Regions from separate parts of the Homo sapiens genome. Here all the other regions are linked to region 5. Evidence: fine-mapped expression QTL. A gene starts in region 5. Each other region holds a variant in brackets. All regions are shown on one strand. Distances are between the middles of the regions. Region 1 holds the start of ORAI2 (ORAI calcium release-activated calcium modulator 2). Region 2 overlaps FBXL13 (F-box and leucine rich repeat protein 13). Region 3 overlaps FBXL13 (F-box and leucine rich repeat protein 13). Region 4 overlaps FBXL13 (F-box and leucine rich repeat protein 13). Region 5 holds the start of ARMC10 (armadillo repeat containing 10). Region 6 overlaps NAPEPLD (N-acyl phosphatidylethanolamine phospholipase D).

Evidence for each region.
Region 1: its variant is fine-mapped to the expression of ARMC10 in spleen (GTEx, PIP above 0.99).
Region 2: its variant is fine-mapped to the expression of ARMC10 in whole blood (TOPMed, PIP above 0.99).
Region 3: its variant is fine-mapped to the expression of ARMC10 in whole blood (TOPMed, PIP 0.96).
Region 4: its variant is fine-mapped to the expression of ARMC10 in whole blood (TOPMed, PIP 0.99).
Region 6: its variant is fine-mapped to the expression of ARMC10 in whole blood (INTERVAL, PIP 0.98).

Annotation. Positions count from the first base shown.
Region 1 is chr7:102,428,472-102,433,767 of GRCh38, reverse strand. ORAI2 (ORAI calcium release-activated calcium modulator 2) reads right to left here and starts at 193. Exons shown (of 4, transcript NM_001126340.3): 1 at 107-193. RefSeq lists silencers at 1-563, 594-733, 2,132-2,426. The variant C/T (reference allele first, on the strand shown) is at 2,738.
Region 2 is chr7:103,029,605-103,034,900 of GRCh38, reverse strand. The region is part of intron 3 of FBXL13 (F-box and leucine rich repeat protein 13); the gene reads left to right. Among named protein-coding and RNA genes, the nearest start is that of FBXL13, 43 kb to the left of the region's middle. The variant C/T (reference allele first, on the strand shown) is at 2,016.
Region 3 is chr7:102,992,282-102,997,577 of GRCh38, reverse strand. All of the region lies in intron 7 of FBXL13 (F-box and leucine rich repeat protein 13), which reads left to right. Among named protein-coding and RNA genes, the nearest start is that of NFE4, 22 kb to the right of the region's middle. RefSeq lists an enhancer at 4,863-5,296. The variant G/A (reference allele first, on the strand shown) is at 2,143.
Region 4 is chr7:102,925,696-102,930,991 of GRCh38, reverse strand. FBXL13 (F-box and leucine rich repeat protein 13) reads left to right here. Exons shown (of 21, transcript NM_001394494.2): 11 at 4,618-4,718. All of the region lies in intron 1 of LRRC17 (leucine rich repeat containing 17), which reads right to left. Among named protein-coding and RNA genes, the nearest start is that of LRRC17, 15 kb to the right of the region's middle. The variant T/C (reference allele first, on the strand shown) is at 2,830.
Region 5 is chr7:103,073,023-103,078,318 of GRCh38, reverse strand. ARMC10 (armadillo repeat containing 10) reads right to left here and starts at 3,179. Exons shown (of 7, transcript NM_031905.5): 1 at 2,908-3,179; 2 at 2,438-2,542. The coding sequence starts at 3,046. It overlaps FBXL13 (F-box and leucine rich repeat protein 13), which reads left to right and starts at 3,523. Exons shown (of 21, transcript NM_001394494.2): 1 at 3,523-3,623. The coding sequence starts at 3,549. RefSeq lists an enhancer at 2,433-2,482 and a silencer at 2,753-3,592.
Region 6 is chr7:103,103,653-103,108,846 of GRCh38, reverse strand. All of the region lies in intron 4 of NAPEPLD (N-acyl phosphatidylethanolamine phospholipase D), which reads left to right. Among named protein-coding and RNA genes, the nearest start is that of ARMC10, 31 kb to the right of the region's middle. RefSeq lists an enhancer at 2,264-3,133. The variant T/G (reference allele first, on the strand shown) is at 3,216.

The DNA.
Region 1 (5,296 bases), 640 kb after region 5:
GCCTACAGTCGTCCCCTTCCCCGCCGAGCGTCCCCGGTCCAATTCCGGCCCCCCCAGCCGCAGGGACCCCGCTCCCCGCGCCAGGCCCCCGCGCCGCCACACTCACCGGAGCTGCCCTCGCCCCGCCCGGCTCGGCTCCCGCTCGGACTGCGTGGCCGCGTGGCCTGTGGCCCAGTGGCCCGGCCGGGGCGCCGAGCGCGGCCCCCTCCCTCCTTCCGCCGGTCGCGCGGGGTCCCCCGGCCCCGCCTCCACCCCGCCCCCGCGGCCGCCGCAGCCGCTGCCAAGGCAACCAGGCGCCGCCAACACGTGACCCACCCGCGGGAGAGCCGCGGCCACGTCACCCGCCGGGCCGGGAGGGGCGGGGCTGGCGGCGCCTCCTCGGAGAGTGGGGGGGTGGGGGTCCCCGCCTCACCTGGAACCACCCCGGGATCGCGCGAGGGAGAGGAGCAGGGGAGGTGGGAAGACCCCGACCCGCGCGCATCCCTCCTGCCCCAGCTCCTGTCCCCGGCCCCAGCTCTGGGAGTCAAGGCGAGGCCCCCCACCGCCCCATCGGGGGTCCGGCTACCCACAGACCACGAGCTGGGCTTTCCCTGCCCCTGGGTCCGGGCGCAAAAGGGGAGCCCCAGGCTTGGCAGGGTGAGCCTCGGGGGGTGCCCAGCATTGGACGCTGGCTGCGTAGAGGGGCGGGGAGTGGGGACAGGGCGGGCGGGTGCAGGTGGGCAGTGGAGGGGAAAGGAAGGTGGGGAGGGGAGAATCCGTCTGGCCACGCCCGAGTTTTCACAGGATTTTTTTTTTTATTTTTTTGAGACAGGGTCTGGCTCTGTCGCCCAGGCTGGACTGCAGTGGTGCGATCACGGTTCAATGCAGCCTCGAATTCCTGAGCTCGAGTGATCCTCTGCCCTCAGTCACCCAAAGTGCTGAGGCTACATGTAGGCAGGAGCCACCACACCGTGGTAGTTTTTAAAAAATTTGTTTTTGTTTGTTTTTTGAGAGGGAGTTTTGCCCTGTCACCCAGGCTGGAGTGCAGTGGTGCCATCTTGGCTCACTGCAACCCCCGACCCCGGGGTTGAAACGATTCTCCTGTCTCAGCCTCCGAGCTACAGGTGCACGCCACTAGCCTGGCTACTTTTTTGTATGTTTAGTAGAGATGGGGTTTCACCATGTTGGCCGGACTGGTCTTGAACTCCTGACCTCAGGTGATCCTGCCTGCCTCGGCCTCCCAAAGTGCTGGGATGATACATGTGAGCCACTGTGCCCAGCCAAAAAAAAAAAAAAAAATTCTTTTTTTAGAGATAGAGTCTTCCTGTATTGCCCAGACTGGTCTTAAACTCCTGGCCTCAAGCAATCCTCTCTTAGCCTCTCAAAGCACTGGGATTACAGGCATGTGCCACAATGTCCAGCTAATTTTTAAATTTTTTAAAAAAATTGAGATGGGTCTTGCTATGTTGCCTCTGCTGGTCTCGAACTCCTGGGCTCAAGTGATCCTCCCACCTCAGCCTCCCAAAGTGCTGGGCATAGAGGCATGGGCCACCTTGCTTGGCCCCTGCCCAGGGTGTTGGATGGCACCATGAAGAGCTTGCACTGAGCTAATTGGGGGTTGCCACCCAGAGTGCACTGCCACTCACAGACCCAGCGAGACCCCTGGGGTCCCAACTTCAGTGCAGCGTGCTGTCCTTCTCATGCTGTTCGCAGACAGCAGCAAAGAGTTTCTGCTGTGCCCTGGCCCCTTCCACTCCCTACTGCAGGGAGCCTCTCACCTTTAACGGTGAATTCTCTGCGGTTTTACGAGCGAGGCAGTCAAACAGGAGCATTCTTTTCAGGAAGTGCAGCACATGAATAATTCACAGACAGACAAGATGGGTTCCTATCAGCCCGGCGGTGCCAGACGGTCCCTTGGAGTCCTTCCTCCATGCCGGGTAGGCTGCTGCGTGCCCTACATAGGATTTTTCCATCTGTCACAACAGCATTGGACCGTGACACATTTATCCAAACGAAGGAAAAATTCCACTCATGTCAGCCAGCCCACATTTTATGACAATTGGAAGAGTAGATGTTACGGACGCCAGGTTAAATCCATCTACACTTCGAGTTGTCTTTTACAGGCTACTGCTGACAGCCAGAATGAAACCAGGAGGACACTTAGTCTAATAAACCAGGTTTCCCCCTCCGGGTTACTGACCTAAAAGGCAAGTTAGGCCCTAACATGGACATAAGCAAATCCCAGGGTTCCTTACTGGCCCTCCTCCTGCCACCCCCATCAATGGCTATGGGTGAGGGAACATTTGAATTTCAGGGGTAAAGTCCTCAAAAAGCAATCATGTTATGGCTTTCCAACGTGGAGTTCTTGGTAAAATGAATCTCGGTGGCTCATGCCTGTAATCCCAGCACTTTGGGAGGCTGATCACCTGAGGCCTGGAGTTCAAGACCAGCCAGGTCAACTGGTAAAACCCCATATCTACTAAAAATACAAAAATTAGCCAGGCATGGTAGCGCACGCCTGTAGTCCCAGCTACTGGGGAGGCTGAGGCAGAAGAATCGCTTGAACCTGGGAGGCGGAGGTTGCAGTGAGCCAAGATCACACCATTGCACTCCAGCCTGGGCCAGAGAGCAAGACTCTGTCTCAAAACACACACACACACACACACACACAAAACAGGAAGAAAACACTTTGTAAACGCAGTAGTTTGCATCATAGATGAATGTGCTTTCAGCAAAGGAGTCCTTTGCTTGTTGAATT[C/T]TCACTCTTGCAGCGACTTCACTCATCCTTGAGAAAGCTTCCTGTGCCCGTTACTGATGCCGCCACCCCACAGGCATATTTATCCAGCATGCCCAGACAGAAGCAAAATGCAAGTTGTAATTGCCAGTGCTTTGCAGAGTTGGTTTCCTAACCAAACACAGAATAGCTTGCTTGCTTGCTTTTCTTTCCCTCCCTCCCTTCCTTTTCTCTTTTCTTTCTCTCCCTTCCTTCCCTCCCTCCCTCACTTCCTTCATTTCTTTCTTTCCCCTCCCTTCCTCCCTTCCCTCCCTTCTCTCCCTTCCCCCCCTTCCTTTCCTTCCTTCGTTCCTTCCTTCCCTCCCTTCTCTCCCTTCCCTCCCTTCCTTTCCTTCCTTCGTTCCTTCCTTCCCTTCCTTCCTTCCTCCCTTTTTCTTTCCTTTCTTTCTCTATCATATTTATGAGACAGAGTCTTGCTCTGTTGCCCAGGCTGGAGTGCAGTGGTGCCATCTTGGCTCACTGTAACCTCCACCTCCTGAGTTCAAGCGATTCTCATGCCTCAGCCTCCCAAGTAACTGGGATTACAGGCACGGGCCACCATGCCTGGCTAATTTTTGTATTTTTAGTAGAGACAGGGTTTCACCATGTTGGTCAGACCAGTCTCGAACTCCTGGCCTCAAGTGATCTGCCGGCCTCAGCCTCCCAAAATGTTGAGATTACTGGGGTGAGCCACCATGCCTGGCCTATAATAGCTCCTTCTTTTTGAGATGGAGTTTCGCTCGTCATTCAGGCTGGAGTGCAATGGCATGATCTTGGCTCACTGCAACCTCCACCTCCCGAGTTCAAGCAATTCTTCTGCCTCAGTCTCCCAAGTAGCTGGGATTACAGGCGCCCACCAAGTTTTTGTATATATTTTTTAGGAGAGATGGGGTGTCGCCATGTTGGCCAGGCTGGTCTCCAACTCCTGACCTCAGCTGATCTGCCTGCCTAAACCCAGAGGATGTTTCAGCTGTCAGCCCTGTCATCGGGGACCCCTCCTTCTACCAGGAAACCCTGTTCCTTGGCTCCAGTGAGTCTGCCTGCTTGTCCCCCCATTTTCTGTCCCCTCGATATGCGATTCTCAGGGTTCTGTCTGGGTCCCTCTCCTCTCTTTGCTCCTCCCTGACTGGTTTCATCTACTCCCATAGTTCCAAGGACCAGGGCAGCCTGACAACCCCATCATCACCTTCAGCCTTGATCTCTCTTCCCAGCACATATGCCTAGGGCCCTCCACTTTACCAGGCCCACAGCCGAATCTGTCATCTTCCCTCGCATTCCTGCCCCACCGCCTGGGTCAGCTGTCTCAGAAGGGTTCCCTCACCCACTCAGCTGCTGGCACCCATGAGTCCTCTCCCCATCGGGTCGTGACAATTCTCCCACCTCCACATTGCTGGACTCTCCCTTACTTCTCCCTGTCCCCACTTGCTTCTGCACTAACTCAGGCCACCATCACCTCTGGTCTGCATGGCAAGGCAGGAGCCCTGTCCCCTTCCACAAACTCAAAGGTCCCCCATGTCTCTCCATTCCAGCCCCTACCCTGTGGCCTTTGAGACTCCAGTCCCCTGATTAACAGGGTCTGAGGCCATGGCAGGGCGCCTCCTCCCTCCCCAGCTCGCTTTCTGGGCACTCTTGTTCTCCTGAGCCACCTGACTTCAGCTCAGCGCTCGCCTTCGCAGAGGCCTGGGTCAGGTGCCCACACAGCAGGCTGTGCTGCTCTCCCCAATCCTGTTCCTGCTCAGACCTGGAGCCCCCTGAAGGCAAGGACTGTGTCTTGTCCACCACCATCCCCAGTGCCTAGCAATGGGCCTTGGAATCCCTTGGATTTTGCACTTAGTTGGTGCTCAATAAACATTTGCTATTTTTTTTCATTTATTATTATATTTTTTGAGACGAAGTTTCACTCTTGTTGCCCAGGCTGGAGTGCAGTGGCATCATTTTGGCTCACTGCAACCTCTGCCTCCCAGGTTCAAGCAACTCTCCTGCCTCAGCCTCCCCAGTAGCTGGGATTACAGGCACTGGCCACCATGCCCGGCTAATTTTTGCATTTTTAGTAGAGATGGGGTTTCACCATGTTGGCCAGGCTGGTCTCGAACTCCTGACCTCAGGTGATCCACCTGCCTTGGCCTCTCAAAGTGCTGGGATTACAGGTGTGAGCCACTGCATCCAGCCTTTTACTTCTGAGACAAGGTCTTAGTGTTACCCAGGCTGGAGTGCGGCAGCACAATCATGGCTCACTGCAGCCTCAATCTCCCAGGCTCAAGTGATTCTCCCACTTCAGCCTTGGAAGTAGCTAGGACTATGCCACTAGGCCAGGTGCACTTTTCAATTTTTATTTTTTAGAGATGTGGGGCTCACTATGTTGCTCAGGCTGGTCTTGAACTCCTGGCCTTAAGTGATCCTCCTGCCTAGGCCTCCCAAAGTGCTGGGGTTACAGGCAAGAGCCACCACACCCAGTGGATTTGTGACATTCTGTGGAGTAAGAAAACAAGAAACGGCCTCCTGGAACTCGCTCCAGGTTAATTTCCAAGAGTGTTCTCTCTACTG
Region 2 (5,296 bases), 43 kb after region 5:
TTTTCAAAAACTGGCATAATGTAAGACTTTTGTAATATATTTTGTATCACATTAGTTTAAGTTTGCAAAATTTAAAGTCACATTAAATTTGATGGCCTTGTACTCTGTGTGCTGTACAGTAGTGGGGGACATGCTGAGAGGTGACAGTGTGCTGGCAGCCCTCGCAGCCCTCGTTCGCTCTCGGCGCCTCCTCTGCCTGGGCTCCCACTTTGGCGGCACTTTAGGAGCCTTTCAGCCTGCCACTGCACTGTGGGATCCCCTTTCTGGGCTGGCCAAGGCCGGAACCGGCTCCCTCAGCTTGCGAGGAGGTGTGGAGGGAAAGGCGTGGGTGGGAACTGGGGCTGCCCACTGTGCTTGCGGGCCAGCGGGAGTTCCGGGTGGGCGTGGGCTCAGCGGACCCCGCACTCAGAGCGGCCAGCCGGCCCCACTGGCCCCGGGCAGTGAGGGGCTTAGCACCTGGGCCAGCAGCTGCTGTGCTCAATTTCTCGCTGGGCTTTAGCTGCCTTCCCGTGGGGCAGGGCTCAGGACCTGCAGTCCGCCATGCCTGAGCCTCCCCCACACCGTCCATGGGCTCCTGTGCCGCCCTAGCCTCCCCTACAAGCGCCGCCCCCCGCTCCACGGTGCGCAGTCCCATCGACCACCCAATGGCTGAGGAGTGTGGGCACACGGCACAGGACTGGCAGGCAGCTCCACCTGCAGCCCCAGTGCGAGATCCACTGGGTGAAGCCAGCTGGTCTCCTGAGTCTAGTGGGAACTTGGAGAACCTTTATGTCTAGCTAAGGGATTGTAAATACACCAATCAGCACTCTGTCTCTAGCTCAAGGTTTGTAAACACACCAATCAGCACCCTGTGTCTAGCTCAGGGTTTGTGAATGCACCAATCGACACTCTGTATCTAGCTACTCTGGTGGGGACTTGGAGAACCTTTGTGTCGACACTCTGTATCTAGCTAATCTGGTGGGGATGTGGAGAACCTTTGTGTCTAGCTCAGGGATTGTAAACACACCAATCAGCGCCCTGTCAAAACAGACCACTTGGCTCTACCGATCAGCAGGATGTGGGTGGGGCCAGATAAGAGAATAAAAGCAGGCTGCCCGAGCCAGCATTGGGAACCCGCTGGGGTCCCCTTCCACACTGTGGAAGCTTTGTTCTTTCATTCTTTGCAATAAATCTTGCTGCTGCTCACTCTTTGGGTCCACATTGCCTTTATGAGCTGTAACACTCACCGTGAAGGTCTGCAGCTTCACTCCTGAAGCCAACAAGACCACAAACCCACCAGGAGGAACGAACAACTCCAGACGCGCTGCCTTAAGAGCTATAACACTCATCGGGAAGGTCTGCAGCTTCATTCTTGAGCCAGCAAGACCACGAATCCACCAGAAGGAAGAAACTCCGAACACATCCGAACATCAGAAGGAACAAACTCCAGACACGCCGCCTTTAAGAACTGTAACACTCACCGCGAGGGTCCGCGGCTTCATTCTTGAAGTCAGTGAGACCAAGAACCCACCAATTCTGGACACAATGCCTTTCCTTCACTTTGTATTGCACAAATAGTGCTGTGTGCCTCATAGGAGCAGTTCTTTTGGATTCTGCCTGCAGTTTGTTCTTCCCTAAGACTCAGACCCCTGATTCAGGTGGCAGAGACAGATGACATGTGGCTCCCCACCCCATCCCCATTCTTGTCTTTCTTTCAGAGCATAGGAAAAGAAAAAAAAGAAAAACAAAAACAAAAAACAAACAAAAAAACCTTTCTTAGTCTCTTGTCTGTCAAAAATATTTAAATTGACTTTTAGAACTCTGTGTGTGTGAGTGTGTATGTGTGTGTGTATGGGGGGATGGAGAGAGAGAGACAGAGACAGACAGACAGAGAGAGAGAGTCTCACTCTGTTGCCCAGGCTGGAGTGCAGTGGCACAATCATAGCTTGCTCACTGCAGCCTCTATCTGAGCTCCAGTGATTCTCCCACCTCAACCTCCCAAGTTGCTGGTACTATGGGTGCATGCCACCACACCC[C/T]GCTAATTTTTTATTTTTAGCAGAGACAAGGTCTCACTATGTTGCCGAGGCTACTCTTTAAGTCGTGAGCTCGAGGGATCCTCCCACCTCAGCCATCCAACGTTTTGGGATTGCAAGTGTGAGCCACCATGCCTGGCTGACTTTTAGAATGTAATATTAGACAGGCCCAGGTAACAGAATCCATTAGATTTAGGCCAATGTTATCCCACCTCCACACCTCATACTCATTAAATGTTGAAAATATAGAAAAGGAGAAGGAAAAACTAAAACTTTTTTTCTGTAGCTATTGAAATCCTCGCATCAACTGAGTTTGCAATGCAAATATATGGTCCTTGTCTGGATTCTAGTTTGAACAAACCGTGTAAGACATTTGGAGGCCAATTCCAGAGAGTTGGCTATGGCATGGGTACAATGATATTAAGCAATTACTATTAAGTGTCTAAGGCAGGATAATGGAATTGTGGTTGCAAAGAAAAGGTACTCATTTTTTAAGAGATGGATATTATGAGATTTGGGGGATGAAATGTCATGATGTCTTAATTTATATACTTTAAAATAGAAAAAGCAAGTATGGCAGAATGTTGACAATGTTAAACATGGATTGTGGGTATTAGGTGTTTATTTTATTTCTCTGTAAGTTTGAAATTTTAAATCTTATTTTCCTCCAACCCTGGCAGAGGAATGAAATTTTTTTATAAGCTATTTTTTTAGGACTGGGTTGTAATCATGCTACATATAATATCTTTTCAAAAAGAAATCAGTTTTATATTTCACTTCTTTTTCTCTCCTAATCTATAAAAACATGTTTCCTTGAAACTAGTGTGTGTGCTATTGTATGCTGCTGGAACTCAGCTTAAAATTTGGGACTTAACATTCTTCTGTCCCCAGTGTACATGAGGAATAAGACATACTCTTAGTCATAATAGTGACTAATCACAGCAGTAATTCCTAGAGAGGGTAAGAGTGGAGGGCTAAGGAATCTTGGGAAGTGAGCCTGGGTAGTTTACAAGTTTTGCAGTTGATTCCAACTGGCTTCTTGTAGGCCACTGGCCTAAAAAAGTAGTGTTAAACCCTAACTTAATACTATGAAAAATCTTTTGCAACGAATTCATTATTTATTTACACATTCCCACTCTTTAACTTTAAAAATCATCTCTTATGGTAGAATTTTTTCTTTTATTTCCAGACTAGAAATTAACCTTTCAGTGTACCTGGACTCTTAGAAATCGTATTGTGATGCACTGTCCATTCCTCCCTCACTTTGTTTGTAACTACGGGTGTCTGGGGATAGCAGCACTAGTGGTGTGAGTGTTATGTGAGGGTACTCTGAGGCCATCTGTAGCCAGCACTAACTTGCTGTTTATCCACTGACTTGCCCACAAAGTTGTTACCAGAATCCTTTGCCCTCCATTTGTGGTAGTCAGATGGTGGAGAATTGGCTTGCATTTAAGCAGTTTTCTAATTCTGTTGATGGATCAATACATATATATTTGTTGAGCTCCTACTCTGTGCAAAACACTGCCAGCTGGAATTAAAAGGTGAGAGGAAGAATATTTTTCAGTCAGAAGCAGTTAAACAATATGCAGCGACTGTGAAGGGTGGGAAGCCATTGGCTGGAGTGTGGATGGTGGAAACATAAATGGAGGAAGTGAAGCCATGTGACTAAGTGGTCCAGACATGTGCCCAGTGATTGGATTGGCCAGAGATTCCTTGGAGCTGCAGTGAAGTCAACACATGCCCACCCCTAAGTGGGGAATGGGGCATTACTGGGCTGGAGTCCTCTTGCATATTAGTCCCTTGGAGATGCTCTCTTAAACTTGCTTTTCCCTGTGAAGAAAAGAATATATACCAATAATAATAATAATGAAAAATTGTGAGTTTGTTTCTTTCTCTCTTTCCTTCCTTTCCCCTCCCTCGCTCCCTCGCTCCCTCCCTCCCTTGCAAACTGGGAGAACAATAAATGTAAAGTTAAAATAAAAATTTATGAAGAGAAACTCTTAAAAAATGAATATTAGAACAACAAAAATTCTGGTGTATTATAAATCATGAATTAATGAGGATTTAAATTACTTCTTTCAATAATAGAATAGAAAATGCTTTTATGCTGTTTTAAAGAGTTGATCATCAGAAAAGAAAACTTGAGTTCAAATGGTATTTGCTGAATTTTAATAATTCTTTTCAAAATCATTATTACTATAATGTTTTGAACTACATTCATTTGGTCATATAATATACTCATATTTTTATGACATATCATTTACTGTAGTTATTTATTTAGGACTTTTCAGGTAATATCATCTAAAAAGAATTAAGCTCATGAAATTTAGGGACCTACAACAGTACTGAAAAATTGTAATGTTAGTGAAATTTGTCTGCCTTTGCCACCTCATCCCCTTCTTGGTTTTTATTCTGCCTGCTGTAATATCCTCAATACTCCTTTACTCATCTGGATTCCTTTCTTCTATAAAAATCTGAATTTAGTGAAGAATGACTTGAATCGTTTATGTTGTCCCTCACTGTAGGCATAATTTGCATTTAATCTCCATCAAAAGTGAGGATTTTCACATGTCGGGGGTCCTATGGGCCTTTCTTGTATGCCTAAAATAAATCTATGATGAACATGTGTATGCCATATCTGTTAATTTAACAAAGTATTTACAGCAATGTGCAAAGGAGAAAACATTTGCCTTAGAAAAGTAGAATTCAGAATTCCTGGCTGTTGGTATAGATTTGAACCAAACTTACCTATACACCAAATAGATGTGACCATATGTTTGTATATCTATATAGTAAGCAAAGGGGCAACAAAATAAGAGGAAAACACCATTAACACTTAACAGTAGCCATGTGCATATAATACTTATGTTAATATAATAATATCTTTACTTATTAAAGAATGCACAGAAGGTATAGATGATTTCAGTTAGCTGTTGCCACATGTTATTGTGAATAGTTGTAAGTGATAAATTTGCATCTCTTTAAGCATATTCCACAGTTTAGACTTTTCATTTATGTGGTTTTCCTATTCCTGCTTGGTAAATGAGGAATTCCTCTATGTTGAAAAGAGAATCTCAGTTTATATCCTTGAAAAAAATCATTCTGTTTGATTCAGAATGATTCAGAAAATCATTCTGTTTTAATAGTGAACAGCAGAACTGCAATTCTATACTATTATAAATATAGCTTATCATAACAATGCCATGATGCTTAACTCTTCAAACTAAGTGAGATATAATGGGAAAATATATTAAGCTGTTATTTTAACTTAAAAAAATAGCTTA
Region 3 (5,296 bases), 81 kb after region 5:
GGAGTATGGGGGGATAGAGAGTGGTTAGTTAATGGGAACAAAAATACAGTTAGATAGAAGGAATAAGAGTTAGTGTTTGATAGTACAGTTGGGTGACTGTAGTTAACAATAATTTATTGTATATTTTAAAATAGCTGGAAGAGAAGAACTGGAGTCTTCCCATAAAAAGATAAATGTTGGAGGTGATTAATATCCCAGTTACCCTGATTTGATCATTACACATTGTATGCATATATTAAAATATCACGTGTACCCTCAAAATATGTACAACTATTATGTATCCATTTTAAAAGAGAAATTACTTCATGGTGTTCTAATCCAATGTTAAGAAAGATGGTGCAGATCTATAATAAAAGCATGAATGTTTTCCGCGGTCATTCATTTTGTGTCTGAAAGTAAAATCTCTAAGCAGTTATTGATGAATAGACATAAATGGCAAGCTTTCAATAACTATAAAAATATTCTAGTGCTGGTTGGAACAGAAGAATAAAGGGATAAGGTTTTGGAAAATCTTAAGGCTTCACGTTTTTTATGAACACATCATCTTTCTTTTTATGGATCTCTCGGTCTAGTAATTCTCAAATATATCAGTGAGCACTGTCTTCAACTATCAATATAATAAAATATAACCAATGGTAAGACTTAAAGAAATAAGGGCTATTTGTTTCATATTACACAATGTGCAGAGAAAAGCAGTCCAAGGCCAGTCATCCACAATACCAATAAAAATGAAGTCTTTCTATCTTGTTAGTCCACAGTCCTTAGGATCTTCTTGCTTGTCTTATGATTGCAATATGTCTACTCCACCTCCAGCCTCATGTTCTTTTACCAGGCCAGAGAGGGGAAAAAGCACAGTGGTAAAGGCAAGATGTTTGTTGATTTGTTTATGAGGAAATCCAAAGTTTCCCCAAATTCCCACAGTCAGGAATTTCATTGATGTGTTTTAGGTTAGAACTTTGTCACAAGGCCTTGTTAAACTGCTGGGGAGGAGAGGACTTTGGGTGGAGTTTGAGTGAGTTAATCAGTATAGTCTGTCTCACTGAATGTGGATTTGAACTACCAGTCATCAGTATCTAAAAGGGCATTTTTCCTTGCCAGAAAAGATGTTGTTTAGGTTGCAGTAAAAAGGCAAAACAACAACAAAGGAACAATCACAGCAGATAAGAAGTAAGCAAGTGTTTAATAAGTCATTATATCAGTGCTGCAAATGAACTCTGGTCTAATGCTCTTTCCTATCCCAGACCCCTGTGGTGAACAATTCAGAGAACAAAAAAGCCAACTACTGAAGAACCACAGCACCCACAGTCTAGCAAATCATTTCATAATGGGATCCAGGGCCTAGAAAAGCTTGTATATGGAAACAGCAACCATTATGACAAACTATGAACTTACATATTTTCTCAACAGCAATCTTTTAGTTTGACAATATATTGATTAAAAGTCCAGGCTCAGGACTCAGGGAGAACTGGGTTTAAATCCAGTCTCAACTGTTTACTAGCAATATGACCTTGAGCAATTTCAGCCCTCTTGGCCTTTGATCTTTAAAACTACCTCACCCCCATTTTCCCACCAAACCCTAAACTAATAGCAAAGAGTTTGGAATAATCTAAGTTTTAGGTTCACTTTGGGAAAACCATTTCAGAATATGGGAAATGTGTAGAATAATTGGGGAATGTTGCTCAGGACAGTAGAAATCATTGCCAGTTTTTGCATTTTAAAGATTACTTTCTGTATGGTGTTATGGTTTATGACTATGCCTTTATTTATTTATTTATTTATTTATTTATTTATTTAGACAGAGTCTTGCTCTGTCACCAGGCTGGAGTGCAGTGGCGCCATCTCAGCTCACTGCAACCTCCACGTCCCGGGATCAAGCGATTCTCCTGCCTCAGACTCCCAAGTAGCTGGAACTACAGGTGCACACCACCACGCCTGGCTAATTTTTGTATTCTTAGTAGAGACAGTGTTTCACCATGTTGGCCAGGTTGGTCTCAATTTCTTGACCTTGTGATCCGTCTGCCTCCGCCTCCCAAAGTGCTGGGATTACAGGCGTGAGCCACTGTGCCCGGCCTATTTTTTTTTTTTTTTTTTTTTTTTTTGAGATGGAGTCTCGCTGTCATCCAGGCTGGAGTGCAGTGGTGC[G/A]ATCTCAGCTCACTGCAAGCTCCGCCTCCCGAGTTCACGCCATTCTCCTGCCTCAGCCTCCCGAGTAGTTGGGACTACAGGCACCCACCACCACGCCCAGCTAATTTTTTGTATTTTTAGTAGAGATGGGGTTTCACCATGTTAGCCATAATGGTCTCGATCTCCTGACCTCGTGATCTGCCCGCCTTGGCCTCCCAAAGTGCTGGGATTACAGGCGTGGGCCACCGTGCCTGGCTGACTATGCTTTTAATGCCTTCTCTCACCCCAGCTTCCCCCATGCTCATGGGAAATAAAGTAGAGCCCTTTGGGGCCCAGATTTATAAAGTCTACCAGAGTGCTCAAACCATAGCATGATCAAGCTAGAAGACAGCTTAGAGATGTTTGTGCTAAGCTTTTACCTTTTACAAGAGGGACAGCTGTGGATCTGAGAAATTTTATGTGCGAATCTGAAAGAGCCAATCTCTCAAGATGAGTTTTGAGTACCTAACTGGGCTGAAATTTAAAATAGAGTCAGGTGGCCATTTGCTGACTAGAGCTCACACACATACTCTGAGTTCCCAGAAAACCTACACATCTGCTTAACTTTGGGGTTGTCATAGCTAACAGTTTCTGTCCACGTGGCCTGAACCAACCAATAGAGTGTAGCCTGCACTGACCAATCAGAAGCCAGCAGCATTGACCAATCAGAACTCTGCAAGTGTCAACCAATCAGAACTAAGCCAGTTTGAATTCTGTATTTGCATAAGAGGACCTGAGTGGAAAGCTGGGTGGGAATTTTAACTATAAAAGCGAAACCCTCCTTTTTTCTTTAATGTATCTTTTGTTTCCACTGAAGGGTTTGTCTTCCCCGTTTGGAAACTGTTCACTGGAATAAAGTCTCTCTTCTCGAAATTCCTTTTCAGATAACTTTTTTCACATCCCCAAAGTCAGACAACTACAAAACTGAGGGCAGGACCTGGTTTTTCTGTGTCCTTGGCTAAGCTTATAGCCTCTATATCTTTTTTTTTTCCTCTTGGAGAATTCTAAAGAAATAGAATATATATTAATATTTCATGAGACAAAAAGCAATAATTAAGAATATTATACATCTGTTTAGTTGTCCTGTCCTTAAAAAAACAAGGGTAACTTTTTTAAAGTTACTAAATCTTGATATGACAGAAAAAAAAGCCAGTATTATTTTTATAGATATCCTCAAAATTTCCCCAAATAATGTGCAGAATGTTCATTAAAAATGCACAAGTAATAAGAGTAGATTTATATAATAGCATATAAACATATAAGTTAATTATTCTAAGACTAATATCTTGAATGGTTGGGTTTGTTATGCTTATTAATGTATAATAGATTTGCAAAGTTAATTTTTTAAATCATACTTTTTAAATGGCATTTAATCTGGTTCACTAACTCAGGGACTTGAGAAGGAAAGGTGTGAAAACAAAAATGTGATGTGAATTTGGTCTGAACCTTATTTAAAATGGTTAGAAGTGTTAGTTTTTTAAATAAATTGAGGTTTTTTATATACAGGCTGTTTAATGTTTTGAAGGAATAATTGAAACCAGCAATTTGGATTGGGATACAATTTGAACTTTCTTAGAATACACATAACAAACTGTAGTCTTGCATTTTAGGTTCAGTTACATCAACTCATGAAAACAAGTCAGGTTCTGTTTTGCAACCATTTTTCTTAGTATCATTTACCCGTTAGGAAATGCTGCTTAGTTAGCAGATGGTAGGGCTCATACACTATCAGTCAAACTGTTGGCCAAACTTAGAGCTAGTGGGAGGGTTGGCAAAGACTGTTTTCCGTGAAAATACAAGTTTGGTTTTTTTTTTTCCTTCTGTGTAGTTTGGCAAGCAACACAGAGAAAAGCCTTATGCTGATGAATTTGGAAACTCTAAAATAGTTAAGTAATGCAGTTTCTTAAAATGTAAAATTACTTGATTAGTTTAATAATGTAAGTGTTGCTTTAGGGTTGTCTTCATTTTAAACAACTATGACTTCTTGTTTGTAAAAGATATATGTCATGTGGACTTGCAAACGGTTATAAAATCACCTTCAGATTTTACTGTGTTGATGACTCATTTTCTCACTTGGGGAAGAAAAGAAACATGGATAGCTATTAAAACTAGTACCATGTTGTAAAAGAGCCAGATGGTTCAGGCCTGTTTGATTAAATTACTTAGAATTACTTGTAAAACAAAAGAATATTCCCAGTGACTTTTCAGATCTATGTTTTGATAACCTCAGGGGTCAGTCTGACCTCATTTCACCAATGCAGACAGTGGTTCCAGGTTTCATAGCTGTGTACTGTGTGAACTTCAGATAAGGAAAGGTTCCACAACCACATTGCTCTATCAAGGAAGTATGTGGATATTGGCTCAAGTTGTGGTGTGGGTGAAAAAGCAAATGAAACAAAACATCTAGAAGTCACTTTGGGAACAGTTGATTTTTGGTGGAACATTGCTCTACCCATAGACCTCACTTTCATCACTTTAGTCTTAATCGCTGTCTCTGTTAAAGTGTTTACAGGCTGGGCGTGGTGGCTCATGCCTGTAATCCCAGCACTTTTGGAGGCACAGGCAGGTGGATCGCTGGGGTCCAGAAGTTCCAGAGAAACCTGAGCAACATGGCAAAACTGTGTCTCTATGAAAAATACAAAAATTAGCCAGATGTGCTGGCGTATGTCTTGTAGTCCCAGCTACTCGATGGGCTGAGGTGGGAGGATTGCTTAAGTCTGGAGAGGTTGAGGCTGCAGTGAGCTGTGACTGTGCCACTGTACTCCAGCCTGGGTGACAGAGTGAGACCCCATCCCCCTCCCAAAAAGGGAAAAAGTTTACAAGTGATTTTGATCTAAAGTTTTCATGACTTTTAAATTGCAGAAGCAGTTCTATTAATTTTAGCAGGACCACCCTTGCAAAATGATCTAGCATATGAAAGACAAAAAACTATACCCCAGTAAGAGGCAGCCACATGGAAATGGGGAGAATGTGCCCTGGAGTCTGGGTGGCCGCTTCTGTCACTAGCTGTGTGACAGCTGTGGCTGGGCATGCTGCTTAATGTTTCTGTTTCTAAATTGTCTCATTTGTAAAAAGGAGATGATAGAGAATTTAAGTTGACAGTAACAAGATGTGTTTGGAAAGGTGGGTTGGGTCT
Region 4 (5,296 bases), 150 kb after region 5:
ACTAGCCTAAGAGACCCAAAGGGCAGGAGATGTGTCTTGTTCTTTGTGGTAGTCATAGCACAACAGCACGAACTTTGGCATATTATATTCAATAATATTTAGTGAATGCAACTATCTGGAGATACCAAGTAGGCAATGGACAACATTGACTAGAATTGAGATTCCATCTTGGGTTGACATCTATGTATAAGTCATAATTAACATCATAAGCGTGAATAAGATCAACTTAGAAGGTTTGAGAAGAGGAGCAGACTTAAAGTTGAGCCTTACGGAATGCTGACTTTTAGGAACAGAGGATATTCAGAAGGAATAGTAAGAGAAGTAGGTTGACAATGAAGAGGTATCACAAAATGAAAGTGAGTAAAGAGTTTCAGAAAGAACCAAAGTGAACAGGTAAGAAAAGGACTGAACAATGCATTGTAGATTTGAGAATCAGAAGGGACTGCCAATTATTGCTTCAACAGTTTCAGTGGGATATTGGAGCAGAAATCTACTTGCAATGAATTGTGAAGTGGAGAAGAGGTCAGAAGGTGAGGCATTAGGCATAAACTGATCTTTCCAGAAAAGTGTCTTAGAGAGTGGTAGAAGGAAAACAGGGGCAGGGAAATGGAAACAGGTTTATAGAGGATGATGGAGAGTCAGCTGAAGCAACTCATGGAGTAAGTCCCTAACGAGATAGGAGGGAATAGGAGGAAAAGCCTGGCTGTGGAATGCCAATCATGAGGCACCAGCTCCACCATGAAGGCCAAGCCCTCCTCGCTGGTGAAAAGACTGCATGAATTGGCCCCTCCCTGCTACCTCTCAGCCTCATTTTTACAGCCTCATCTTTCTAGTTTTTTCTTTCAAAATTCTACTCTATTTCAATACTGAACCACTTGAAGTTCCCTGTTCATGTCATGCTATTTCATTGTGTCTTTGAACTTGTTTTTCCATCTGCCTAAATGACTACCCTTCCCTCCCCACCACCCCTAGCCCAAACTGGCTAACACCTGTTCATTCTTTAACACACTCTTCAATGCTATCGGGTCTTTCCATTCTCTTTGTTTATTGACCTTTAATAAACAGCTTTATTGAGATATAATAAATTTATATTTATATTGAGATTAAATTTACCCACTTAAAGTGTACAATTTCATGGTTTTGGTATTTTTACAGAGTTGTTTGACCATCACCACAACCAACTTCAGAACATTTCCCTCACCCCTAACAGAACCCATGCCCATCAACAGTCACCCTTCATTTTCTCTCAACCCCCGGCCCTATGCAATTCTGTTCACTTTTTGACAGTTAATTTCTAACTTAATTAATTTTTTTTTTTTTTTTTTTTTGAGATGGAGTCTCACTCTGTTGCCCAGGCTGGAGTGCAGTGGTGCCATCGTGGCTCACTACAACCTCCACCTCCCAGGTTCAAGTGATTCTCCTGCCTCAGCCACCCAATTAGCTGGGATTATAGGCACGTGCCACTGCACCTGGCTAATTTTTGAATTTTTTTTGTAGAGATGGGGTTTCACCATGTTGGACAGGCTGGTCTCGAACTCCTGAGCTCAAGTGATCCACCCGCCTCGGCCTCCCAAAGTGCTGGGATTACAGGCGTGAGACACCGCACCCAGCTGACAGAATTAATTTCTCCCTCTTCTGAGCTACATATGGTCTCAGTACTTCAACACAGATACTTCACACTGTATTACACTTATGTTTACATATGTATCTCCCGTTTTAGAACTGAGCACTTTGAAAATCCTCCTTTAGTAATTTTTCCCCATGAAATCCATCCCATTTCCACAGTAAAACATCTTTTCAAAACATGGAAGGCATTATACACAAATAGAATGTGTACAGAAGAATGTTAAGACCCTCAGAACTCCTCCACTCCTTACCTCAACACACAGAGTCAGCATTTAAATTAGTTGTTTAATCCCTGTCCAGCAGAACATAAAGAACCACCATAGACTGTAAACTAAGCATCTTCTCAGTGGCTTGTACTTTAACATAAATAAGCTGTTCCTTTATGTTCAAAAGTACCCTTCAGGGTCATCCGCAAGAAATGGAGGCATAGACAGACATGTCAAATATCACATCAGAGAAAAAAATGTTCTGCTTTCTCTGGTTGCACTCTTTCTCCACTAGCAAAGTGAACGTGGGCTCCTTCATGAAGAAGGATTTTAAATCTTGACTACTACATTCTCCAGATGTCTGCCTGTCATTATAATGAAGTTGTTTGTCAAATGGATTTACTCTTTCTGTGGATGTTTTAGCACCTACTATGTTAAATGTGTTCTGCTAGGTGTTGGAGGGAATTAAAAAACTAATCATTTTTCAGTTCTTGTCCTCAGGGAGCTTCAGTTGTGTACTTGAGTAAGATATCATATTCTTTGAGTTTGGCCCTCTAATAGGGAAGTCAAAACAATGCATTGAATTTGTGAACATCAAAGTCTTGTCCGATTTTGGAGTCTAATAATATACAGGGCTGATAATTTTATCCAGCTACATTTTACTATTGTTTTTCCCTTTGAGACGTAGACTGGGACACAGGCTTACATTTAAGGAGTTGGGTAACACTCATTCGAAGAGCTTTGATTTCTAAGCTTATCCTATGAAATATATTACATTCAGAAAGATTTGAGTACATTGTGGACAAATTCATAAGTCATTCTGCAATGTAGGTACTCAGTTTTTGCATTTATGTGTTCAAACATTTGGGGATTAAATCTTGAGTTCTTTTAAGTACTAAGAATGGGAGTGGTCTAAATTTGTTTGGATGTTCAAGCTTCTTTAGACAGGAAAATGTAGAGAATGCATTACCTCCTCATCTCAATCTGAGAATGGGAG[T/C]GGTCTAATTTTGTTTGGATGTCCAAGCTTCTTTAGACAGGAAAATGCAAAGAATGGATTGCCTCCTCATCTCAAACAGAAAGTCAGATTTCTTTATGATACATAAAGCTACTCCACCTTCCTCTTCCTGGTCCCCACATTTTCATCTTTGTGGCTGCCTCTCTGAGGGTGTTTAAGTGAGCTCTTTCTCCTTTCCTTGCCCCATCTCATTTGCATTTTGCCAAGGTCTTTCAACAAGTGTATAATCACTTTGATACTTGATTGGCATGCCAAACGTTTTCAAAGACAGATTTTCATTGTGTTGAAATACAGTGCCACACGTGGTTATTCTCTAGATTCTTTTTGGAAAAATTGTACACATTTTATCTATCCATACCTATTCAAATCCTTCATTTTGGTGATGGGGCATCTAGAAAAAATGCTGACAGCTTGAATACTGTAGTTAAGAGTAGTGTTTATCAAAAGCTCTGCACTGGCCTCTCATGCAGCATGGGTGCATAGAACCTTCCCTATAGCAGAATCACAGAGATTTACAGCTTCAAATAGAATCTTGTGTTCTCTTTAAGGTGTGGTTTGCTGCCCCTGTAAATCAACCAATTCCTATCTGAGTGTGACAGATGCTCTGACCTGCAGGATTTTATTGTTTTAAAAATCCATGACTACTGGAAATAGTAATGAATGGAATGTTAAACCTCAATGATCCTGTTGAAAATAAGCCTTTACTATCTTTAGTGGTGTTAGGAGTGGTCATATTTCTGATGCAGAATTCTTCTCAGAACCACATCTTCTAGCCTAGTAATGATTTACCTCTTCCAGACAGATAGATACCTGCAGTGGTCTATTCTTTCTGGGACTGATGTAGCGTCAAACATTGCATGCACCACTAATACTTAAACTGGCTGCCCTGTTGATGTTCCTGGGGAGATTCATCAATCATTAAATAAAAACCTGCTGCTACTCGTTGTATTTTATATAGTGTTACCTATACAAAAAGCAGCTTGTTGCAGTCAAAGCTTGCAATTCATCTGGTCTTGTAAATTTCAACTTAGAATCTGTGCTTGAAACCTCTGTTTTTCTGTCTCTCTTATTTCATGGTCCCACTACTCTCTTACTTCAGTTTTCAGCTTTCTGGGGGAAGGATGCTTGAATCTTTGAGATCCTCCCCCACCCTACTCCCAGCATTGAATCTCCTGCCCAACTGGTATGTAGCCTCTATTTTATTTTAGCCATCTCAAACTTACCATAAATCTGGTGAAAATCTGTTCAGCTATTTAAAATATTTAGTTAACAGAACCACAGAAGCTTAATTATACACACACATCTATGTATAAATGTATATGTGTATAAATATGGACTGTTACTAAAGTTCCATTGTTGAGAGTGTTTAGTATGCCTTTCAGAATAATTTTAATAAGTTTAAAATGGATCAGTTTTTAATTGCTTTCCTGCATATGAAGAGTCAGAAGTGTTTGGCACTTTGACATGTGAGCTCAAATTTCGTGTGACAGAGTTGAACTTGCATGGGTTCACATTTTAATGAAGTGTCATTGTGATGGAATGAGACTTGATTTCCAAGGAAAGGGAAAAGGAGGGAGTAATGATGCTTTGAGCAAAAGCATTGGCTTCTATTTAATTTCATTTCAACCTAATAGTAGATAAAGAATATGAAGAAACCAACTCTTACATGTATTTTTTTCTGGAACAGGAAGAGGGATAATAGAAAGATAATGGGGAAATTGCAAAGCCTGCTATAATTTGATAAGCCTCTTCCCTCTGTTTTTCATGCAGGATGAATCAATGAGACACATTTCTGAGGGCTGCCCGGGGGTCCTGTGTCTCAATCTGTCTAACACAACTATCACCAACAGGACGATGCGACTCCTGCCGAGGTAATGTTTGTGTTATTTGTATGACACTGAAAAAAATTATGCTCCCAAAGTCTCTGGCTTGCTCTAGCATTCTGCAAGGGCAGTGCTCCCTTTATCAACACCCCACCACTGTGGCACTGCTTTTCTGATAAGGGGTCTGCTGCTTTCAAGTCCCTAAGCTGGTGCCTGAACTGGTCTGCCTTGGCTAGCATTTTTGTGACTCTTACAGCAATGTGCCCAGTAGCTTGAGTTAGACTTTGCCTGCTTCTTTCTGGTCCCCCATTCTGGGCATTCAAGCTTTCTGGCCCTTACATTCCAGTCTGGTGTCTGGGACCTTTTTTTTTTTTTTTTTTTGAGACAGAGTCTTGCTCTGTCGCCCAGGCTGCAGTGCAGTGGCATGATCTTAGCTCATGGCAACCTACGCCTCCCGGGTCCAAGCGATTCTCATGCGTCAGCCTCCTGAGTAGTTGGGATTACAGGTGCCCACCACCACGCCTGGCTATTTTTGTATTTTTAGTAGAGATGGGGTTTCTCCATGTTGGTCAGGCTGGTCTCAAACTCCTGACTTCAGGTGATCTGCCCGCCTGGGCCTCCCAAAG
Region 5 (5,296 bases):
TCCCACGATGTAGGGATTATGGGATTACAATTCAAGATAACATTTGGGCCGGGCACAGTGGCTGATGCCTGTAATTCCAGCACTTTGGGAGGCTAAGGCAGGCACATCACCTGGCCAACATGGTGAAACCCTGTCTCTACTAAAAATACAAAAAAAATTCGCCAGGCACATGGTGTGTACCTGTCATCTCAGCTACTCCGGAGGCCGAGGCAAGAGAATCGCTTGAACCCATGAGGTGGCGGTTGCAGTGAGCTGAGATCATGCCACTGCACTCCAGCCTGGGAGACAGAGTGCGACTCCGTCTCAAAAAAAAAGAAAAAGATGAGATTTGGGTGGGGACACAAAGCCAAACCATATTGATGATGAAATGAGCATTTCTCAAGTCTTCTTCAATGATAAAGGAGTAGCTTCAGGAAGAAGGGACTGTGAGCAAATTATTTTTTAAGCTGCCTTACCTAAGATAATGATGATTATGGGAACTGTTAAGTTTAAAAGACTGTCCACATTCATCAGATTGAGTCAGTATAACTGAGAAGATATCTGAGTCCAGGACACCTTCCCAATGTACTTATACAAAAATATCTCTGACATGGGCAAAGACAACAAATTAGGCTTTGTAAATGCTATGATTTGAATGTCTCCTGCGAAACTCATGTCGAAACTTAATTCCCAATGTGGCAGTATTGAGAGGTAAGGCCTTTAAGAGGTGACTGGATCATGAGGGGTCTGTCCTCATGAATGAATTAATCCATTCATGGATTAATGAGCAGGACTGGTGGCTTTATAAGAACAAGAGACCTGAGTCAGCATGTTAACACACTTGCCCCTCTGGCCTTGGGATGCCCTATGCCACAACAAGAAAGCCCTTACCAGCTACGGCCCCTCAATCTTGGACTTCTCAGCTTCCATAACTCTAAGAAATAAATTTCTTTCCTAATAAATTACCCAGTTTCAGATATTCTATTATAAGCAACAGAAAATGGACTAATACAGTAAGGGTACATACAAATCTTTAAAAAAAAAAAGCTGAATTATACCTAGTGGCAAAAGTGAGAGAGACCTTCCCCTTCCACTCCCTTTTTCTTAAAGCATTCCCTCGTGCAAACTTGTAATTAAAAATCCTTTATTGGCCAGGTGAGGAGGCTCAATCCTGTAATTCCAGCACTTCGGGATGCTGAGGCAGGAGCACTGCTTAAGCCAAGTTCAAATCAGCCTGGGCAACATGGTGAAAACTCATCTCCTAAAAAATTGGAAAAATTAGCCAGGTGTCGGTGTGCACCTGTAGTCCTAGTTACTTAGTGGGGTGAGGTGGGAGGAGCCCAGGGAAGTGGAGGCTGCAGCTGTGATTGCGCCGCTGCAGCTGTGATTGCGCCACTGCACCGAGCCTGGGTGACAGAGGGAGTCCCTGTCTGAAAACAAAACAAAACTCCTTTTTCTGCTTCTTTGATACAAATGTAAATCTTTTTGTTTGTTTTTTGTTTTTTGAGACAGAATCTTGCTCTGTCGCACAAGCTGGAGTGCAATGGTGCAATCTTGGCACACTGCAACCTCTGCCTCCTGGGTTCAAGTGATTCTCCTGCCTCAGCCTCCTGAGTAGCTGGGATTACAGGCACCCACCGCCAAGCCCGGCTAATTTTTGTATTTTTAGTAGAGATGGGGCTTCCCCATGTTGGTCAAGCTGGTCTTGAACTCCTGACCACATGATCCGCCTGCCTTGGCCTCCCAGAGTGCTGGGATTACAGGTGTGAGCCACCACACCCAGCCTGTAAATCTTTTTAAAAGTGAAATAAGCATTTGGCCAGTTTTACAGCCCAAGAAAGACTTTCTTAAAAGCTTTGGAGCCTACTGTTCGAAAGCGTACTCTTTGAAACCTACTCTTCCAGGAAGATAGATCCCCAATCTCCCCAACTCTGTGAGTTTTTAGCCTGGGCACCTGGTTCCACATCATAAAGATATTTTTATTTTTCCTCTGGATAAAGGCAATTAGATAACAACCACCCCAATTACCAGTAAATTCAGGATAAACTACATGTAGCAAATGGTACTGTCAAGTCCTCTTACCTAAGGACAAATTATTTTTTATCTTGAGAACACGTATGTAATATGAAATCGGTTCTATCTGTCCAGCTACATTTAAAGGAATTAGAATTCTTCCTGCTATCCCATTAGCAAATTGCCCGTGATGTGTGAGGCAATTTAGTTTGTGCTTATTCAACAATGAAGCTGTTTAGCTCTCTTCTACAATTGTGGACAGGAGTTTCTTGGATGGCAGATATGATATTTTAAATTATTTCCCTAACAGCTTCCATGATGTGAAACATGCCTTTGGAGGGTTTTAATGTACCGATCAACTTTTGGACAGAAACCGAATCATGCATTTGTCCGCTGGGAGGGTGTGTCTCGCGCAGACAACTGTTCCCATTTCCAAAACACACACCAGGCTGCGAGGTCTTGGACCACTGTGACTCCCAGGTACCTCCCGTCTGAGGCCGGGCCGAGCGCCCGCACAACTGACCCTCTGACGTCCCTTCTTCCAGGGCACCTGCAAGCAGAGATTGACCTATGGCTCTGGGCCCCTCAACAGCCCTTCCACAATCGGGAGAATCCCTTTAGTTACACAAAGGCCCGGAGCAAGCTTTAAAATGAGAGGCCATCAACAGGTTTTTAAGAAATCTAATCCTCCGCTGTGACGCGGAGCTCAGGCAGGAAAGCCAGGGCAAGTTTTCATACCAGTATAGTCAGCAAAGGGGCGGCGGGGGCGGCGCAGCACCCTGCACTCACACAAGTACTGCCTCTCCCTCTAGCTCGGCTCCTCATTTTACCCCGAGCACACGCAAGCCACCACCCCGGCCTGGGGAGCCCCCCTGCCCAGTCCCCGCCCACCTGCCGGAAACCCCGGGGTCCCACCTGCGGACTTCGAAGAGCGTATCCCGAGCTCGCGGTCGCCCCGCCGCCGACCCCGGGTCAGCCTGTAAATGCAGTAGCAGGCGCCCGCGCCGAGCAGCAGGCCCGCCGCCACCCAGCCCGCGCCCCGGGGGCCACCCATGCTGCCGCCGCGGCAGAGCCGCAGCGCCGGGCCAGGGCAGGAGGCTCGCGGGGGCCAGCGCGGAGGTCTCCAGCGCACGCGGGCCTAGCCGCCACAGCAAACGCCACCTGACCTGGATGTGGAGAAAGGAAATGGGGTCTGAGCTCCGCCTCCCGGAAACGGCCTAGCTCAAAGCCTATAACCGCCCACTCCAGCCCGGCGCGTCCCGGCGGCTTCTCCCAGGCGAGGCGGGGCGGTGCGGGGCGCTGCACACCGGGAGGGGGGGGTCGGACGGTGCGCCCCACGCGGAGACGCCGGGGCCCGCAACCCAGAGCCGAGCTTCCCGTCTCTTCCCCCGGGGCGTGAAGCAACCATTCCTCCCTCCCGCCCCTGGCAGCGGAGCGCGGGGCGGTGCCACGCCCAGCCCCGCCCCCTGGTTGCCGGGACAACGCCCGCACGCGCCCGGCCCCTAGTCCCAGCGCGGGGAGGGTACTATCGCAGCTTCTCCGTCAGGCCTTGGGCCATGGCCTCGCTACGCAATGCCAACCCGAGGCTGAAGAACTACTTCAAGGAGAACTACATTCCTCAGGTCTGCGAGGTACTGGACACGCGTGGCAGCGGACACAGACCGTCGGTGGGGAGTTAGAAGGGGGAGGAGTCAGGAAAGACTTCCCGGAGGAGGGACTAGGTTTCGGGATTGGGGAGGAGTGGAGGGAAGGCGGGGCAGAATGCGAGAAAGTGAAGTCAAATTCGGACTTGTAGGCGATCAGGGCTGAAGACGCTGATTAGAGAGAAAACAGAGGGTGATGGTGGCTGCACGTGGGGAATGGGTGACATCTCCCAGGGGGAATGAGCACAAGGCCCAGATCGGAAACCCCAAACTCAGATTTTAAGGTTTGGACAAGAAGTACCTGAGGAGTGGAGGAGTGAGAAAGAAGTGCCAGAGAGCCTGAGGAGGAAAATCAGCAGACTGGCATTATGAAGAATGTTGTCAGAAGTAGGGAGTAGGCACTAGTCACCTAAGATAAGGAGCTGGATTCTGCCCAAGGTGAGCCTGAGGTTTCCATGGAGCCGTGAGGGCAGAAAATAGATGGAGGTTAGCGGAGGGAAGAGTGGAAGCTGAGACCTTTGGTCAGTGTAGTCAGCCCTTTGTGAAGGTAAGGACCCTCTCAACCAGGATTGCCTTTAGACAACAGGAAGGACTGCCCTCCTACTGCCGTTATAAGAGTAGGGAAGGAAGACAGGAAGGGGATAGACATTAGGTTTTGTAGGTTTGGGGGTAGGAAGCTGAGAACATTTGCCTTTGTTGACCTCTTTTTTTCTCTACAAATAGTTGGTGAGATATTTACCAAGAATGTGCGTGTTTGAGTGGGGATGGGGATGTTGGTGCAGTAGGAGGTTCGAGCAAAGATACGTTATGTGGAGAATGAGGGAGAGAGATGTCTAGGGAAAGAAAGAGGAGGTCCTACCTGAGGGTAGTAACGCTCCTAGGCGGTTGGGAGGGCAATTTGGTAGAGACCCCCCACCCGTCTCTTTTTTGGATGGTAATTGAGAAATATTTATTAAGATGTTAAATACATGTACCCTTTAACCAAGCATTTCTACTTCTAGGGATCTACTTTAGAGAAATACTTGCACATGTGTTCAGGAGGATGTACAAGGATATTCATTATAACTTTGTTTCATAGTAAAAATAGTAAATGACCTAGAGTGACTAAGCGAATGAGGCATTATGTAGAATAAAGTATATCTGTACCTACTAAGAAGAAATGTCCTCCAAGACATATTATTATTATCATCATTATTATTGAGACACGGGGTGTTGGTCTGCCACCCAGGCTAGGGTGTAGTGGCTCCATCCTAGCTCACTGCAGCCTCAAACTCCTGGGCTCAATTGATCCTCCCACCTCATCCTCCCAAGTAGCTAGGACTACAGGCATACACCACATGGCTGGCTCCCAACACATATTATTAAGTAAAAAAGAAAAAGTGCAAGTTGCTTAGCAACTGTCCATTCTGCTCTAGCTGTCCATTTGATTTCATATATGTTGTATATGTGTTTATGTACATATATGTGTATATATCTAGCTTTAAGACAATAGTGCATGCATAGAACCTATGCCAAACTGTTAATAACAGATGTCTTGTGGAATGGTTTTGGGGGAAAAGATGGAGAATTCTAACTTTTTACTCTGTCCATAGCTGTATTGTTTTAATTTATTACAGTGAGTTTTGTGTTGTACCTCTATACAATTGTGCTTGAAAATATGT
Region 6 (5,194 bases), 31 kb before region 5:
TGGGTCTTCTGAATACAGCACACTGATGGGTCTTGACTCTTTATCCAGTTTACCAGTCTGTGTCTTTTAATTGGGGCATTAACCCATTTACATTTAAGGTTAATATTGTTATGTGTGAATATGATCCTGTCATTATGATGTTAGCTGGTTATTTTGCTTGTTGGTTAATGCAGTTTATTCATAGTGTTGATGGTCTTTGCAATTTGGTATGTTTTTGCAGTGGCTTATACTGGTTGTTCCTTTCCATGTTTAGTGCTTCCTTCAGGAGCTCTTGTAAGGCAGGCCTGGTGGTGACAAAAATCTCTCAGCATTTGCTTGTCTGTAAAGGATTTTATTTCACCTTCGCTTTGAAGCTTAGTTTGGCTGCATATGAAATTCTGGGTTGAAAATTCTTTTAAGAATGTTGAGCTGGGCGTGGTGGCTCACGCCTGTAATCCCAGCACTTTTGGAGGCTGAGGCGGGCAGATCATGAGGTCAGGAGTTCGAGACCAGCCTGACCAACATGGTGAAACCCCGTCTCTACTAAAAATGCAAAAATTAACTGGGTGTTGTGGCGCACGCCTGTGATCCCAACTACTCAGGAGGCTGAGGCTGGAAAACTGCTTGAACCCGGGAGGTGGAGGTTGCAGTGAGCTGAGACTGCACCACTGCACTCCAACCTGGGTGACAGAGCAAGACTCCATCTCAAAAAAAAAAAAAAAAAAAAAAAAAAGAATGTTGAATATTGGCCCCTACTCTCTTCTGGGCTTGTAGGGTTTCTGCTGAGAGATCTGGTGTTAGTCTGATGGGCTTCCCTTTATGGGTAACTTAGTCTGATGGGCTTCCCTTTATGGGTAACCTGAAGTTTCTCTCTGGTTGCCCTTTACATTTTTTCCTTCATTTCACCCTTGATGAATCTGACGATTATGTGTCTTGAGGTTGCTCTTCTTGAGGAGTATCTTTGTGGTGTTCTCTGTATTTCCTGAATTTGAATGTTGGCCTGTCTTGCTAGGTTGGGGAAGTTCTCCTGGATAATATTCTGAAGAGTGTTTTCCAACTTGGTTTCATTCTCCCCATCACTTTCAGGTACACCAATCGTGTAGATTTGGTCTTTTCACATAGTCACATATTTCTTGGAGTCTTTGTTCATTTCTTGTCACTCTTTTTTCTCTAATCTTGTCTTCTCGCTTTAATTCATTGAGTTGATCTTCAATCTCTGATATCCTTTCTTCTGCTTGATCGATTCGGCTATTGATACTGTGTATGCTTAATGAAGTTCTCTTACTGTGTTTTTCAGCTCCATCAGGTCATTTATGTTCTTCTCTAAACTGTTTTTTCTAGTTAGCAATTTGTCTAACCTTTTTTCAAGGTTCTTAGCTTCCTTGCATTGGGTTAGAATACGCTCCTTTAGCTCGGAGGGGTTTGTTATTACCCACCTTCTAAAGCCTGCTTCTGTCAATTCATCAAACTCATTCTGTGTCCAGTTTTCTTCCCTTGCTGGTGAGGAGTTGTGATCCTTTGGAGGAGAGGAAGTGTTATGGTTTTTGGAGTTTTCAGCCTTTTTGTGCTGGTTTCTCCCCATCTTTGTGGATTTATCTACCTTTGGTCTTTGATGTTGGTGACCTTCAGGTGGGCTCTATGAGTGGACGTCCTTTTTGTTGATGCTGATACTATTCCTTTCTGTTAGTTAGTTTTCCTTCTTACAGGCCCCTCTGCTGCAGGTCTGCTGGAGTTTGCTGGAGGTCCACTCCAGACCCTGTTTGCCTGGGTATCAACATCGGAGGCTGCAGAACAGCAAAGATTACTGCCTGTTTCTTCCTCTGCAAGCTTTGTCCCAGAAGGGCACCCGTCAGATGCCAGCCAGAGGTCTCCTGTATGAGATGTCTGTCGGCCCCTACTGGGAGGTGTCTCCCAGCCAGGATACACAGGGGTCAGGGACCCACTTGAGGAGGCAGTCTGTCCCTTATCAGAGCTCGAACGCTGTGCTGGGAGAACCAGTGCTCTTTTCAGAGCTGTCAGGCAGGGACGTTTAAGTCTGCTGAAACTGCGCCCACAGCACCCCTTCCCCCAGTTGCTCTGTCCCAGGGAGATGGGAGTTTTATTTATAAGCCCCTGACTGGGGTGCTGCCTTTTTTTTTTAGAGATGCCCTGCCCAGAGAGGAGAAGTCTAGAGAGGCAGTCTGGCTGCAGCGGCCTTGCTGAGCTGCAGTGGGCTCTGCTCACTTTGAACTTCCCAGTGGCTTTGTTTACACTGTGAGGGGAAAACTGCCTACTCAAGCTTCAGCAGTGGCGGACGCCCCTCCCCCTACCAAGCTCAAGCATCCCAGGTCAGGGTCAGACTGCTGTGCTGGCAGCGAAAATTTCAATCCTGTGGATCTTAGCTTGCTGGGCTTTGTGGGGGTGGGCCCCGCTGAGCCAGACCACTTGGCTCCATGGCTTCAGCCCCCTTTCCAGGGGAGTGAACGGTTTTGTTTTGCTGGCATTACAGGTGCCACTGGGGTATGAAAAAAAAAAAAAGCTCCCGCAGCTAGTTTGGTGTCTGCCCAAATTGCCGCCCAGTTTTGTGCTTGAAACCCAGGGCCCTGGTGGGGCAGGCACCGGAGGTAATCTCCTGGTCTGCCTGTTACGAACACTATTGGAAAAGTGCAGTATCTGGGCTGGAGTGCACTGTTCCTCCCCGTACAGTCTCTCATGGCTTCCCTTGGGTAGGGGAGAGAATTCCCCAACCCCTTGTTCTTCCTGGATGAGGCAATGCCCCACCCTCCTTTGGCTCACCCTCCGTGGGCTGCACCCACTGTCTAACCAGCCCTAATGAGATGGACCAGGTACCTCAGTTGGAAATGCAGAAATCACCCACCTTCTGTGTAGACCTCACTGGGAGCTGCAGACCAGAGCTGTTCCTCTTCAGCCTTTTTTTTTTTTTTTTTTTTTTTTTGAGACGGAGTCTCATTCTGTTGCTCAGGCTGGAGTGCAGTGGCACGATCTCGGCGCGCTGCAACCTCCGTCTCCTGGGTTCAAGCAATTCTCCTGCCTCAGCCTCCCAAGTAGCTGGGATTACAGGTGCCGGCCACTATGCCTGGCTAATTTTTGTATTTTTAGTAGAGACAGGGTTTTGCCATGTTGGCCAGGCTGGTCTCAAACTCCTGACCTCAGGTGATCCGTCCGCTTCAGCCTTAACTGGCGTGAGCCACTGCACCCAGCCAGTTACCCATGACTTCTAAACACTTTAACACTCT[T/G]TGCATATATGCTGTTATAGTAGCTGCCTCGTGTAATATAAGCAGATTAAGGATGTCCTTAACTTGGCAATACTCTAAAATTGCATATATGGCAACATCTAATTTATCTAGGGAATGATGAGTGCATTTCCTACATATATTTAAGCACTAAAACTTAAATTACTAGTTTTGATGGAAACGAGTTTCAAGCATTACATAATATGTACATTGCCTTTCAAGTGATCCGGGTCTTTACTTTGAATATATTCTATTGTTGTATATCATGAAACTGACCCCTTTAGGAATTTACGAGTTGTGTGTGGCTAGCTGCCTAGACCCTAATGGATCCAGAATGCTCGGAGTCTTCTGCTTTTCCCATTTACTCATATTGATCTCTGATCTGCTGTTTTGCTTTATATGTAGTTGTTTTGTCCCATGGTTATGGGGCATTTTTATCTCCCTTCTGGACTAAAGTGCTTGGACTGTGAGCTCTCAGTCACTCAGAAGCCTTTCAGACCTACCTCCAGGGTTATCTTCCAGATGGTTGAAACAGCGAAGAATTGGTCTGTGAAGAAACTCAGAAAGATACTGCTAAATCTAGGCAGATTAAAGACAGAGGGTCTACTGCCAACTCTAACATATCAGAATTCTCACTAAACGCAAACATCGCCCTCCACACTAAAGTTATAGCTTAGCAAATAAGTTACTGACGTAGGGTGATTCTGTGAGTGTGTACTGTTAGCCCAGACTTGTACAGCATGGGAGAAAGAGAATTTAACAAAAGAAGTTATTTTTCAATGGGAAAAAAGCTCATCATTTTGAAATCTCTTAAAATAATTTAGGAAATTATTTCAGGGGAAATTTCTTGACTTAGGGTATAAAGTTAAATTTTATTTGTAATATAATTAGTGATCTTTTTTCTTTATATATAAAATAGACTAAAAGTAAATTCCTGTTATCAACTATCCATTACTAAGGGGTTAGCTCTAGGAATATTGGATAACCAGCATACAGTTAAAACCAAACTTACTCAGTAGTCAGTTGAAAGGTATCCTTTATCTTTAAACATAGCCATAAAACCTGGAACTGAGCAAGGGGGAAAAGGATGACCTGTGTGTGGCCAACAACTGTTACCAAACCTGTGCATTTAAGGGCTCAGGAAACTTGCCTGGTTTTCCTTGCACATCATTGGCTGTCCCTTATTCTCTGTTGCTAGTCCCTCCTCTCCGCTTGCTCTGAACAGTGCGTGCCGTAGAAGTCAGTCCACGGACCTCTTCTCTTCTGTAGTTGGTTTCTCCCTTGGGAATCGCATCCAGTCTTATGGCTTCAAATACCACCTACCTGCTGTTCCTCTCTAGCTCAGATGTTTTTCTTCTATAATCCACATTTATATATCCAACTGTCTCCTTCACATCTCCACTTGGATATCCATTAGGTACCTAGAACTAAAGTCTGAAATTAAACTTTCTCATCTTCCCTCAAGCTTACTTTTCAAACATCTCAGTAAAGGGTGACTCCCATTTAGCAATTCCTCAGGGCAAAATCTTGACTCCTCTTTGCCACACAGAGCTCAACCTTCATATTCTCTGGGATCCTCTTTCATTCTGTAGACTGTGGTTTCTGTATGTGACTAGACTTTTTGAGGATAACAACCCTTCTTCAGCAAAACAATTTGCTCTAGCATTTGGTTACACACACACACACACCACAATTTGATTTCTATATTTTTCAAAAATGTTAGTAACATGTAATTCTCTAATAACATCATCTTTGGCACTGATTCCATCTAGATTGGAATTTCATATGGTGAAACCGTGATGATTTCATGCAATCCAGTGATGTTCAAAGTAAGATGGCACCAAATTTCACATACATGGTGTTGGCATGATTTCTATCCAACCAAATACCTGTTGACTTAATTCATGACTCAAAACTGTATTAGAAAATGTGATAGACCCATTTGCTAATGCTTCAATTAAAAGAAAGGGCCTAATTCTAAC